Linked DNA regions of Homo sapiens. Changing the gene in region 4 together with the main gene of any one other region gives a genetic interaction. Each region holds a gene or a part of one and is shown on either strand. Other genes may lie near its edges.

Region 1 (3,500 bases), on a different chromosome or scaffold from region 4:
CACTGTAGAGAAAGAAAAAAAAAAGAAATCACTGTAGAGGATTTGTGCCCTTGATTGATTACCTTAGTTTCACTATTGAGTGTGAGGATGTAATATATTTGACTTTCAAAAATATTTTCAACAACTGATTTATAATAAAACTTTGTATATGTGTATGGCAGTATTATAAGGATGATATGCTATAATTAAAATGCTATGTAATTGAATACCTACAAATACAATGAAGTACTGATTCATCATTTTTATGTTACTTGGAGACATTGTTATAATTCATCAAAAAAGATTATATCATCTGCATCAGAGTGTTTAAAATGGCATAACTCCTTTTTTTTTGTTTGAGACAGAGTTTCACTCTGTTGCACTGGCTGGAGTGCAGTGGCTCACTGCAACCTCTGCCTCCCAGGTTCAAGCAATTCTCCTGCCTCAGGCTCCCAAGTTGCTGGGATTACAGGCATGTGCTGCCACCATGCCTGGCTAATTTTTATATTTTTAGTTGAGACAGGGTTTTTGCCATGTTGGCCAGGCTGGTCTCAAACTCCTGACCTCAGGTGATCTGCGCACCTCAGCCTCCCAAAGTGTTGGGATTACAGGCGTGAGCCACTGCGCCCGGCCTGGCGTAACTCCTTTAGCTGCATCATTAATCAAAGGTTTCATTCAAATGCCCTCAGCTATAAGATCAGATGATTTCATTGTCTCTACCCATTTTCATAGGTATAGCTAAACTTGTAGCAGTAAGCAATGGCAGGGGTTAATAGAAGTATGTATTTGTTGGCCAGGCGTGGTGGCTCACGCCTGTAATCCCAGCACTTTGAGAAGCTGAGGTGGGTGGGTCACCTGAGGTCAGGAGTTCGAGACCAGCCTGGCCAACATGGTAAATAAAACCCCATCTCTATTAACAACACAAAAATTACCCAACCTTGGTGGCATGAGCCTGTAATCCCAGCTACTCGGGATGCTGAGGCAGGAGAATTGCTTGAACCCGGGAGGTGGAGGTTGCAGTGAGCCAAGATTGTGACATTGCACACAGCAGTGGTGACATTGCTTGCCTGGGTGACAAGAGTGAAACTCCATCTCAAAAAAAAAAAAAAAAAAAGAACTATGTATTTGTTACACTTTTAAAACTATGTCTAGTGCTTAAGTTCATAGTATTAATAGAGTCTGTTTTCTGACAGGAAATATTCTATACAGCATATCCAACTAAGCAGCATGTTGATAACAATAGTCCCCAGCTATTTATGGAGATGTATTCTAAGCTCCCCCCTCCAAGAATGTTTGAAACAGAGGATAGTACTGAATCCTATACTGTATATGCTGTTTTTTCCTAAACATACATATCTATAATAAAGCTTAGCTTATAAATTAGGTACAGTAGGATATCAACAACAGTCATAATATAACAGTTATAACACTATGCCAGCAGGGCCGGGTGTGGTGGCTTACGCCTGTAATCCCAGCACTTTGGGAAGCTGAGGAGGGTGGATCACGAGGTCAGGAGTTCAAGATCAGCCTGGCCAAGATGGTGAAACCCCATCTCTACTAAAAATACAAAAAAAAATTAGCTGGGTGTAGTGGTGGGTGCCTGTAATCCCAGCTACTCGGAGGCTGAGGCAGAGAATTGCTTAAACCCGGGAGGCGGAGGATGCAGTGAGCCAAGATCGCGCCACTGCACTCCAGCCTGCGCAACAGAGCGAAACTCTATCTCAAAAAAAAAAAAAAATGCAAGCATAACTATTTTTGTGCATTGGTTACTTGAATATAAGCACTGCAGTACTGCACAACGGAGAGGGCTACGAAAGTGACTAATGGGTAGATAGAGATGATTCATGTCCTGGGGGGAGCTGAGTGGGATAGCAAGAGATTTAAAACTTAGGAACTATTTATTTCTGGAATTTCCTTTTTAATATTTTCAGACTGCAGTTAACCACAGGTAATTTACCACACAAAGTGAAAGCACAGGTAGGGGACTATTAATAGATACTTGTAGGAATATCTCTTCCTAATAAATGTGTTTATTTGTAGGCTTTTTCATATCTAAAGCAATAGAATATTTGATACAATCTCAGAAAGCAGGGACCAGATTAGTGTTCGTGTGTGTGACATTTATGTCACTCCTGTAGTATACTAATGGAATTTAGAATAGTACTGCCATCTCTCAGGTGAATAGAAACATTGAACTTAATAAGCTTAGCCTTCAGTTTGTCCTAGGCATTCATTGCAAACCTGCTTGTGCTAATGAAGGAATTACAAATGAAACATCAAGATTTTTAGGGAATTCTGGATTATAGAATTCTATATTATATGTGATTTTTATTTATTATGGTGGCTGTAATAATTCTATAGGTCTTTTGTTTCAGTACGTGGAACATTCATATATTTGGAGGTGCATTCTTTGTAACTTTTTTCTTTTGTAGGTTCTCTTTTAAATTTGGCCAAGCATGCAGCTTCTACCGTTCAGATTCTTGGAGCTGAAAAGGCACTTTTCAGAGCCCTCAAATCTAGACGGGATACCCCTAAGTATGGTCTCATTTATCATGCTTCACTCGTGGGCCAGACAAGTCCCAAACACAAAGGAAAGGTGTGTTATAGGGTTTTGCTTTGTTTTTGAGGTTAGACTTTTTCATTTTTTACAACCCATTTTTCTTCTACTCTGTAGTACACATTAAATCTTCTATTGTCTCTTTCTTGTTAAATAGGGAATGGTGAGTTATTTAAATAAAAAGTGCTTTGTGTACACTGAAGGATAAGGTTAGAAGAAACTGTTATTGGTTGGATTAAAGCCAGTTTCTTCCATTGTGTTAGTATTTTTTTCCCCCCTAGAATCTCCCTGTGGTTGGCACACTGAAAATACTATCTCTGGCAGCAAAAAAAAAATCTAACATTTACGAATCATAAAAAATAGCATATGCATTATGCTAAAACACTTTGAGAGAAGTCACTAAACTTTTTTTTTTTGAGATGGAGTCCCGCTCTGTCGCCAGGCTAGAGTGCAGTGGCTTGATCTCGGCTCACTGCAACCTCCAGCTCCCTGGTTCAAACGATTCTCCTGCCTCCCTGCCTCAGCCTTCTGAGTAGCTGGGATTACATGCACGTGCCACCACGCCCGGCTAATTTTTGTATTTTAAGTAAAGACCAGTTTCACCATGTTGGCCAGGCTGGTCTCAAACTCCTGACCTCCTGATCCACCCACCTCGGCTTCCCAGAGTGCTGGGATTACAGGTGTGAGCACCTGTGCCTGTCCTAAATCTTCAGTAGCCTTATGAGATGTAGGTATCTCTATCTTGCAGATGATGAAACTGAGGCTTAGACAAGTTAAGTACTTTCAATGTTTTTGAAAGATGTGTCGTTTAACAGATCTAAACTGAAAATTGATAAAATTTAGAGCAGAGTGGTGGAGGAAAATAAAGCGTTCAATAAAATAAAATGTTAATTAGATTGAAAAAGAACCCACGCTTTTTTTTGTTTGTTTGTTTGTTTGTTTGTTTGTTTTTTGAGATGGAGTC
Region 2 (3,500 bases), on a different chromosome or scaffold from region 4:
TGGCTCCCTCCCTGCAACGGGGTGTCTGGAAAGTCCAATAGATCAGAATGCTTCTCATCTGCCCACAGGGCACATTGTTCTCAGTGATACCCAGGAGGGGCCTCGTTAGTGGAAAATGTGAATTGTCACTTTCAGAGAGGTGGGACTTGCCCCAGTGTCACACTGGGTGGACAGGGTTCCTGTCACTCACTCCGCACTGAACGAGGCTTTTTGATGTCTGGGCCTCTTGCACCTGAGCTGCCCAGCGTTGGCTCCCCTTGGGGGTGGAAAAGTGTGTCTGGCCAAGTCACTGGCACAGGCAGGTACGGAACAGCTCGGCTCCCACGCCAGCAAAGAGCTGCCTTGCATGCTGTGGAAGAGGAAGACAGCACCGGGGGCAGAAGAGAACATTTCCTGGAAAAACAGGCCATCCAAGGTGGCTGCCGCAGTGGAGGGAGAGGAGTTTTCAGAAAGGAGGGGCCCGTGAGCAGGGGCATGGAGGCAGGAAGTCAGGCCATGCCTCCCTCCTGATGCCTGCTCTCCAGCCGCCGAGGCCAGATGTCATTGTCATATGTTACGATCTCACCACATCCATGTTCCACCCACTTACTATGACTACTTTTTAATTTAAACTGCCTTTTAAAAACTTAACTGAAAGGGAAGATTAGCTCCTCGCTGAGCATGGCACATTAGTGTCACTGCCCTGGGCTTTGTTCTCAGCTTTTCTGGGCCCCACAGTCTGATCCTCTGACAGAGCTCATTGGCCTGGGTTTTCCTTGACTCTTTCACACGGCCACATCCTCCATTGTCACCAGCATGATCTTCTGTTGTTTTTTTTTTTAACTTTATGAATCTTGAGTTGTACGGGTAGCTTAGAAATGCCTCTGTCTAATAAGAAATCAAACACAGACATACAGCACGAGTGCCCTGTGATGACCCTTCGTTTAGTCCCTTCCTGGCGATGGCCTTGGTCGTCAGTCCAGTGGGTAACCTGCTGGGCCTTTTCCTGTGGGACTGTTTCATTGGTTCTGTTTTTGTTTCACACATGAATGTATCATATTGTCCATTTTTTCTTGCAGTTTTTTTTCCAGAATGATTTTCTAAGGCATGAATCTTTTGAAATTATTTATTTTAATACATAAAAACAGTAGTGAAAACAATAATACATACTCTTGCTTTAAAAAGTTTCACAGCACAAGCTGGGCGTGGTGGCTCACGCCTATAATCCCAGCACTTTGGGAAGCTGAGGTGGGCGGAACACTTGAGGTCAGGAGATCGAGACCAGCCTGGCCAACATGGTAAAACCCCATCTCTACTAAAAATACAAAAATTAGCTGGGTGTGGTGGTGCATGCCTGTAATCTCAACTCCTCGGGAGGCTAAGGCAGGAGAACTGCTTGAACCCGGGAGGTGGAGGTTGCAGTGAGCCAAGACTGTGCTACTGCACTCCAGCCAGGGCGAGAGCAAGACTCTGTCTCAAAAAAAAAAAAAAAAAAAAAAAAGTTTCACAGCATAAAAGGGACACAACGCTGGCCATGTCCTTCCACTGCTTCCAGTGCTCAGAGGCTTCCTGGTGCCACAGGAGAAAGGCCCTGCTGTCCCCGGCCACGGGCTCCTGTCCTCACCGCAGCCTCTCTGTCCTCCTCAGCTGAGCCCCCGGCAATAGTGTGGGTGCCCCCTCCTCAGACTGATGGACCTGGATGGTGGCCCCTGGGCTGTGAGCATCCTGCTGGCAGGGCCAGGGGAGGTGGGCGACAGAGAAGTCAAAGCCCCGGCCTTGTGGTGCAACTCTGGGCGAGTCAGTTCACCTCTCTGCGTCTCAGCCTCTTCCCCTGTGCCCAGAGAGCTGCTGGAGGGTGGATTCATGACGACAAAAGGTGCCCAGGACAGGGCCTCTCCATGCTGAGGGCTCGCTGCAAGCCACCCTTCTCACCCCGTTTGTTGTTATTCTTACTGTTCCAGCCCAGGACCCAGCACAAGCCTGGCATGTAAGTGAGGATAACCCGACATTGAATAAAAAGAGAAAGGAATAAAGCTCCACCTAAGATGTGTGGGGACATACAGGGACAGAGGCCTCTCGCGGGGCACTGGGGATGCGATAGAAGGGCTGAGATGGGATAGGATGTTTGTGCGGCGGGAGCTCACGCAGGCTCTGAGCACATCATTGAGTAATGCGCTGAAGGTGCTGATTGGGACTCTCATCAGGAGGCAGCGAGCAAAGACAGGAAGCCCGCGGCAGCCTCCGTGGTTGCAGATAGCATCTCCCTGGCCCTCCTGCCTCACAACGCCCTCCATCTGTTGTCTGTTTGTCTTCCAAGTACTCCAGGAAGAAAGAAGCCACGTGGCATTGGCGTTCACCCAAGAGGCTGCAGCCTCCACCCATGTCTGGGGTTGCTGTCCCCTGCGTTGAGATGGGATGGAATGATTCAAGCAAGCTACATTTTTTTGATGAGGCCCCCTGGTCACCCCCCTTTTTTTGGTCTGTTTATTTCCAGGCAATGCCACCGTAGATAAGTTGGAGGACTTCATCAACAACATTAACAGTGTCTTGGAGTCCTTGTATATTGAGATAAAGAGAGGAGTCACGGAAGATGATGGGAGACCCATTTATGCGTTGGTGAGTGCCCGGCAGAGCCCTCTAGTGGCATTTTTGAGGAGCTGGAACAGGGCCCAGGCAGCCTGTGTTTGCTTTGGTTTGATTTCTCTTTTGGACAGTTCTTTGCAAAGAAGTCACTCCAAATGTATAGAATATTAGGAATAAAGGGAGAAAATGGTTTTTTATTTAGAATAAGACATAGAAGCTATGAAAAGAAACTCTGTAGGAGTGTCAAGGATTGCAGGCCATGTGGGTGGGGCCTTCAGTGGTTTTCAGATTTACTCTCACAGGTAGGGATTTGGGCCTCATCCCTCCTGCCGCCGACTCCCCGTTCACCCACGTGATGTGTTCAGGATGCCACAGCCAGAATGGCAGAGCCAGGAGTGAAATACAGCCAGGGTGAAATACAGGAGTGGGAAGCTGACATGCCCCATCCCTGGCTAGGAGACACCTCAGCTGGTCAGAGGACATCTGGCTGCTCCCAGCCAGGCTCACACTCAGAAAGGGGCACTCTAGTCCAGGGTTGCCCAAACTCAATTCCCTGGAAAAAAAACATTACAGAGTCAAAGAACTGTGGAAATGCTGGTCAGACATGGCAAAGCAGATTTCCTTGCTATCAGACTTCTCAGTGCTTTTTTTGCATTTGAAGCTCCATTAACATGCAGACAAATCTCCCAAATTTATCTGAGTTTGGAAAATACTGCACACCCTTTGGAGTTCTGAAACTTCTGAGGGCCCAGCATGTTGGCTGAGCTAAAGAATAAAGTCTGTAATATACGCCTGGTTACAGATCCATCCCTGCGGCCCGCAGTGCCTGGATACAGGAGCTCAGTGACTGGCCAGAGATGGAGGAGGGGAGGGAGGGAGAGCCAGCGACACGTTAACCAACACGCAAAGAGCACAGCCTGACTGTCGTGCTGACTTAT
Region 3 (3,500 bases), on a different chromosome or scaffold from region 4:
ATTTCTTTCAATTCAAAGGCCAAGCATCAGTAAAGACTACTGAGGAAAAAAAGCATACACCTGCACCATTTTCAGGCTAGGAAAAACAGATTTCTACATTTTTATGAAAAGGGAGTCCCTGGGCAACTGGTCATTACTAAGTCTAATAATGGAAAAATAAATACAAATAGTTCAATTCTCCAATAATTTTACCAAATCTCAGGCCCAGGGACAAGGTTAGTTAGTGATGTGGTAGGGATTAGAGCAAATGAAAAGGTCTGGCAGGTCTTGGTTTTCAATGTCAGATCAATTAGGTAAAATAGATGGCATGGCAGGCTCAGGGTAGTCCGGGCCACATTACACAAAAATGATACACAATGTACTATGTATCTATCTGAAGTAATGAAAACCAAGATTTGGTTTCATATTCCTAGAACTTTTGCATTTAAAATTATCATTCTATGTTCTACATCCAAACCCAAGCAGATTCACTGGAGAAAGCGGCGCATCACAGGGTTAGTATTGGTGGGTAGCGCCCAAGAGGGGTGTGGACGACAGACACACCATGCACACGGCAAACCAAGGCAAATACCCTTGTTGTTCTTCGTAACAGGTTGCTTGGCAGAGGGGGTTGGGACAGGGATTCCAGCAGATTTAGGGGTGGGCATGTTGACGAGGACCGACTGGAAAGGCACTCCCCCAGAGATTGGTTCCGGGGGAATCAGAGGCAGCAGCTCATCCTCATCAGCAGGGGCAAGGGGTTTAGAGGGTGATTCCAACACCAGCCCAGGAGAGGACGGCAGAAATTGCTGTTTAGGAGGCAGAGTGGGAACTGGGGAGGGAGCAAGAGGCAGAGAGACTGGTGGGGAGGGTGCTGCAGAGACAGATGCTGATTCAGGTTTAGGAAGGACCTTCTCAAAGGCAGCTGCTGTTAGAGGGGTGGACGCCTTAGACTCAGGAGGAGCCAAGGGGCCCTTTGGGGAATGAGAAGCATCTTTGCCTTTTGCTGTCTTTGAAGAGTCTTTCTGAACAGGGAGTAGAGGGGCTGGAGCCACTGTGGAAAGGGGTCCTTTAGAACCATTCTTAGCTGAGGGATCTGGGCATATAGGAGGTGAAGTAGCAGAACTCTTTTTGGTCTGTGGACCTTTCCGAGTGGGAGCTGTGATGATTGGCGTGCTTTCTGGAGCTGGGGCAACAAGTACTTCTTTCAGAGCTGTGGGGCCTTTCTTTGCTGGAAGCCCTTTAGATGCTTGAGGAACAGTGGCCCCCATTTTACATGTGACAGAAGCTGGGGAAGTAGGGGAGTCTTTGAGGGAGGAAGGAGTCACAGGTGGGGAAGTGGGAGTCCCTTTGGGGGCTGGAGTTGCTGGGCCCTTTTCGGGGGATGGAGGAGTCACAGCTGGAGGAGTAGGTGCCTCTTTGGGGGAAGGAGAAGTCACAGCTGGTGGAATGAGGAGCTCTTTGGGGGATGGGGCCCCTTTGTAAGTGGAAGGAGTCACTGCTGGGGGACTGGAGGCCTCTTTGGAGGATGGGGTAGCTGGGGCTTCTTTGGGGGTTGGAATTGCTGGGGTCTTTTTAGGGGAGGGAACAGTCATAGCTGGGGGAATGAGGGCCTCTTTGGGGGCTAGAGTTGCTGGGGTCTTTTTAGAGAGAAGAGTCGCTGTTGGGGCAATGGGGTCCCTTCTGGAGGATGGGGTAGCTGGGACCTCTTTGGGGGAAGAAGGAATCACAGCTGGCAGAGTGGGGGCCCCCATGGGGGCTGGAGTTGCTGGGGCCTTTTTGGGAGAGGAAGAAGTGGCAACTTGTTTGGGGGCTGGGGGCTCCTTGGGGGAAGGAGGAGTCACTGCTGGGAGGGTGGGATCCCCTTTGGAGGATGGGGTAGCTGGGCCTCCTTTGGGGGCTGAAGTTGCTGGGGCCTTTTTGAGGGAGACAGGAGTCACTGCTGGGGGAGTGAGATCTCCTTTGGATGGGGTGGCTGCGCCTTCTCTGGTGACTGGAGTTGCTGGAGCCTTTTTGGGGGAGAGAGGAATCACTGCTGGGGAAGTGGGGTCCCCTTTGGGAGATGGGATAGCTGGTCCTCTTTTGGGGGAGGGAGGAGTCATAGCGGGACCTCCTTTGTGGGAGGGGGTTGCAGCTGGGGGAGTGGGGCCCTCTTTGGAGGATGGAGTAGTTGGGCCTCCTTTAGAGGAGGGAGTTGTAGCTGGGAGAGTAGGGGTCCCTTTAGGGGAGGGAGGAGTTACAGCTGGGGGAGTGGGGGCCCCTTTGGGGGGTGGGGTACCTGGGCTTCCTTTTGGGGAGGGAGGAGTTGCAGCTGGAGGAGTGGGGGCCCCTTTGGGGGGTGAGGTAGCTGGGCCTCCTTTTGGAGAGGGAGGAGTTACAACTGCGGGATTGGGGGCCCCTTTGTGGGGTGGGGTAGCTAGACCTCCTTTTAGGGAGGGAGGAGTTGCAGCTGGGGGAGTGGGGGCCCCTTTGGGGGGTGGGGTAGCTGGGCCTCCTTTTGGGGAGGGAGGAGTTGCAGCTGGGGTTGTGGGGGCCCCTTTGGGGGATGGGGTAGCCAGACCTCCTTTTGGGGAGGGAGGAGTTGCAGCTGGGGTTGTGGGGGCCCCTTTGGGGGATGGGGTAGCTAGACCTCCTTTTGGGGAGGGAGGAGTTGCAGCTGGGGTTGTGGGGGCCCCTTTGGGGGATGGGGTAGCTAGACCTCCTTTTGGGGAAGGAGGAGTTGCAGCTGGGGTTGTGGGGGCCCCTTTTGGGGGTGGGGTAGCTAGACCTCCTTTTGGGGAAGGAGGAGTTGCAGCTGGGGTTGTGGGGGCCCCTTTTGGGGGTGGGGTAGCTAGACCTCCTTTTGGGGAGGGAGGAGTTGCAGCTGGGGTTGTGGGTGCCCCTTTGTGGGGTGGGGTAGCTAGACCTCCTTTTGGGGAGGGAGGAGTTGCAGCTGGGGGCATGGGGGCCCCTTTGGGGGATGGGGTAGCTGGGCCTCCTTTTGGGGAGGGAGGAGTCGCAGCTGGGGGAGTGGGGGCCCCCTTGAGGGATGGGGTAGCTGGACCTCCTTTTGGGGAGGGAAGAGTTGCAGCTGGGGTTGTGGGGGCCCCTTTGGGGAGTGGGGTAGCTGCTGGACTTCCTTTGGGGGAGGGAGGAGTTGCAGCTGGGGGTGTGGATGCCCCTTTGGGGAATGGGGTAGCTGCTGGACTTCCTTTGGGGGAGGGAGGAGTCACAGCTGGGGGTGTGGGGGCCCCTTTGGGGGATGGAGTAGCTGGACCTCCTTTGGGGGAGGGAGGAGTTGCAGCTGGGGGTGTGGGGGCCCCTTTGGGGGATGGAGTAGCTGGACCTCCTTTTGGGGAGGGAGGAGTTGCAGCTGGGGGTGTGGGGGCCCATTTCGGGGATGGGGTAGCTGGGCCTCCTTTAGGGGAGGGAGGAGTTGCAGCTGGGGGTGTGGGGGCCCCTTTGGGGGATGGGGAAGCTGGGATTCCTTTAGGGGCTGGAGTTGCTCGGGCCTTTTTGGGGGAGGAAGAAGTCATGGATAG
Region 4 (3,500 bases):
GGCCCTTCAGAGAACCAGTTTTTGCCCTCTTTGGGGCCATGCTGCCCTCATTGAGAATGCATGTGTGTATTGATATTTAGAGGAGGAGAGGGAAACAGCTTTGCTATGCATGAATAGTTACTTGGGTTTCATAGGACTCAGAAGAGGTTAGTGTTTCTGTTGCTTTGTCAGATTGTCCAGAAGGGAACATAAGGATTAAGTTGCCACAATTACTCCACCAGTCTTATCACCCAACTCTAAACATGGTATCTTGGAGTCCCTAAGTTACCTAGAATATACTAGGTATAGTAATACCATTTTTGAGAACGTTGATATGCCAAGGGTATAGTGACATTATTGTAGTTGAAGGCATTTTGTTGAATTTAGGGAACAGTAGCTCTAATGCATTAGGAGTAATTGTAAATGTTCAAACCTTTATCCTTGTGGTTCTCAAACAGTGATGATTCTGCTTCCAGGGGACATTTGCAATTTCTGGGAGCATTTTTGGTGGCCACAACTGGGTGTATGAGTGTTCCTAGTGGAACACTCATCTAGAGGGTGGAGTCCTAGGATGCTGCTAAACGTCCTGCAGTGCAAAGGACCAAGTCCTTTGCAAAGAATTATCTAGTCCAAAATATCAGCACTGCTGAGATTGAGAAACCCTGCTCTGTCTTAGTGATTGTACTTCTTGGAATCTAGCTTTAGAAAGTAATCCAAGTAATGTTGCTAGGATTTTGATGTATGTATATTTTTTTAAGTGGGACATATATTTGTATATATAATTATAAAAAAATGAGAAACAAGCTTAATTCTTTCAGTCTTAAGAAGAACACATGTCAGGACTTACAGTAATTTCAGCAATACTGAAGAATTGGAAACCATTTTAGAGAAAATTAACTCACCCATTTCAGCAATTTTTTTTTTTTTTTTCTGTGACGGAATCTTGCTCTGTCGCCCAGGCTGGAATGCAGTGGCTCAATCTCAGCTCACTGCAAGCTCCGCCTCCCGGGTTCAAGCAATGTGATTCTCCTGCCTCGGCCTCCCGAGTAGCTGGGACTACAGGCACATGCCACCACACCTGACTAATTTTTTGTGTTTTTAGTAGAGACGGGGTTTCACCATGTGAGCCAGGATGGTCTCGATCTCCTGACCTCATGATCTGCCCACCTTGGCCTCCCAAAGTGCTGGGATTAGAGGCGTGAGCCACCTTGCCTGGCCTAGCAATTTTTTCTTTTTTTTGAAACAGGGTCTCATTGTGTCACCCAGGTGAAGTGCAGTGACGCAGTCGCAGTTCACTGCAGCCTTAATCTCCTGGGCTCAGGTGATTCTCCCACTTCAACCTCCAGAGTAGCTGGGACTATAGGCATACGCCACCATGCCTGGCTCATTTTTGTATTTTTTGTAGAGATGGGGTATCATCATGTTGCCTAGGCTGATCTCAAACTCCTGGGCTCAAACGATGCGCCCACCTTGGCCTCCCAAATTGCTGGGATTATACAGGCTTTAGCCACTGCGCCCATCCCCAGCAGTTCTTTATACAACACCCTTCAACTTCTGTTTGCCCACCTTGGGTTAAAGTACATATAAAGAATCATCTACTGTTATCAATAGCCCTTTATTTCTTAGAAGAAATAAAAGTACCTCAAAAATACGGCAATTTGTAAATGAGTTAAATCTGAATATGGGTGCATTGAGTGTTCTTTACATTATTCTGTTTTTCTTTGTTTTTGAAATATTGGAAGATCACATTTTAAAAGTTAGTGTACTTTTCAGATTTGTTCATGTGTGAGCTGAGGCCAAATATAGAAATATTTTTATCAATAATTTGGCAATGTATAGCAATGAATGACTTTGTTATAAGTAGAGCTAGTTAACTACAACAAATAAAATGATTTCCGAGGGCTTTTCTCTCTGTGTTTGGAATGTTAAGTGCTTTCTGAATGTATTCAGGGTGTATTAAATGTTAAAAGGCGAATGGTTTTTGAAATTACTCAAGCAAGAATTGGGGTGATTGAGTATGGTTTACAATTCCATAAGATGGCAAGTTGGTAATCCTTTTTTTCCCTAAGTTAACCTGAAAAAACATACATTTAGGAAGAAACTATATTATGCATTAAGATGAACAAAATGAGGCCGGGTGCGGTGGCTCATGCCTGTAATCCCAGCACTTTGGGAGGCCGAGCCAGGTGGATCACGAGGTCAGGAGATCGAGACCATCCTGGCGAACGTAGTGAAACCCTGTGTCTACTAAAAATACCAAAAAAAAAAAAAAAAAATTAGCCGGGCGTGGTGGCGAGCACCTGTAGTCCCAGCTATTCAGGAGAGAGGCAGGAGAATGGTGTGAATCCGGGAGGCGGAGCTTGCAGTGAACCGAGATCATGCCACTGCACTCTAGCCTGGGCAACAGAGCGAAACTCCGTCTCAAAAAAAAAAAAAAAGATGAACAAAATCTGTTTATTTCTTATTAAAAAAAAAAAGTCAGCCTTGTGATAATGCTATTATGGTATTCCTATTTCACAGATAATGAATATTGCAAAATGTTTTATTTTGGAAGAATTATTTATTTAAAACTAGTAACTGTTGCTTTTGCATTCAAATTTTTAAATGTTTTTTCCTCTGAGATTTTAGACATCTGTCCTTTAGATTAGTAAAGGGTACTTTTCAACTTTGTTCTCAATAAAATTATGTTCTTTGTCTTCTGACAGAAATTCTACTAAATCATATAGATGTTTGGTGAAAGATAGATTGTATTAAAAGAAAATTATTTTAGATTTTGGGGTCCTACTGCTATGGGATAGATTTTAAGGAGATATCGGTAGTCATTAACTTGCTCTAATGGATTGTTAGAAATTTCTTCTAAGTAAGGAAAACATTGTGTAAAATCATCATGTAGTGAAGACATTTAAATTTCTGTATTGGATTCAATATTTTGAGCATTAGAATTTTTAAAGAAGGAATCATGTCAATGTCTCTAAATTTAGATATATTAAATATAGTCATTTTTCTAAAATCAGACATTTAGTGAGTTATTGCTGTTGATGCTATGTCAAACCAAAGTTTAGACCTGAAAGCAAAAAGACTGTAGCTCAAAGTGCATTCTGCTTAGCAACCAGCTTGTTGTCTCCTGTTTTGCTACTGAATGCACGTACTCATGCCTCAGAAGTGTATCTCCAGCCAGCTGGACTCAACCGGACAATACTTCATTCACCTAATTTCCAGACTAGTCAAGCAAAGACATCAGCTCATTGTATTTAGTCATGAGGAAATTTATTTGTAAACTTCAAATAGTAGCACACTGCTCCCAAAAGCCCCTGAACTATGAGAAATTGCTTTCTGATTCAGAAATGTGAAGTCCTTGGAATTTAGAACTGCTTCCCTTTTTTTTCTTTCTTAATAACCCTTGCAAGAGAAATTAGCTCTTAATAGAAAATATATGTTAAAGTCTAAGAATAATTTTGGAATTATCTTAAAGTGAAAATTTAGAAAGTTCAATTTGCATCCAGACTTTTATTATCTACCTT

Evidence for each region.
Region 1: changes in ZNHIT6 (region 4) and NOP58 together harm fitness more than expected from each alone (negative genetic interaction), as found in Homo sapiens cells (one large-scale study listed by BioGRID).
Region 2: changes in ZNHIT6 (region 4) and NSMCE1 together harm fitness less than expected from each alone (positive genetic interaction), as found in Homo sapiens cells (one large-scale study listed by BioGRID).
Region 3: changes in ZNHIT6 (region 4) and NACA together harm fitness less than expected from each alone (positive genetic interaction), as found in Homo sapiens cells (one large-scale study listed by BioGRID).

What each region holds. Positions count from the first base shown.
Region 1 is NC_000002.12:202,293,263-202,296,762, forward strand, and holds part of NOP58 (nucleolar protein 58), read left to right. Parts: intron 1-2,411; coding exon 2,412-2,575; intron 2,576-3,500. UniProt on the Homo sapiens protein: Required for the biogenesis of box C/D snoRNAs such as U3, U8 and U14 snoRNAs. Part of the small subunit (SSU) processome, first precursor of the small eukaryotic ribosomal subunit.
Region 2 is NC_000016.10:27,234,273-27,237,772, reverse strand, and holds part of NSMCE1 (non-structural maintenance of chromosomes element 1 homolog), read left to right. Parts: intron 1-2,473; coding exon 2,474-2,595; intron 2,596-3,500. UniProt on the Homo sapiens protein: RING-type zinc finger-containing E3 ubiquitin ligase that assembles with melanoma antigen protein (MAGE) to catalyze the direct transfer of ubiquitin from E2 ubiquitin-conjugating enzyme to a specific substrate.
Region 3 is NC_000012.12:56,715,300-56,718,799, forward strand, and holds part of NACA (nascent polypeptide-associated complex subunit alpha), read right to left. Parts: coding exon 572-3,500; intron 1-571. UniProt on the Homo sapiens protein: Cardiac- and muscle-specific transcription factor. May act to regulate the expression of genes involved in the development of myotubes.
Region 4 is NC_000001.11:85,680,934-85,684,433, reverse strand, and holds part of ZNHIT6 (box C/D snoRNA protein 1), read left to right. Parts: intron 1-3,500. UniProt on the Homo sapiens protein: Required for box C/D snoRNAs accumulation involved in snoRNA processing, snoRNA transport to the nucleolus and ribosome biogenesis.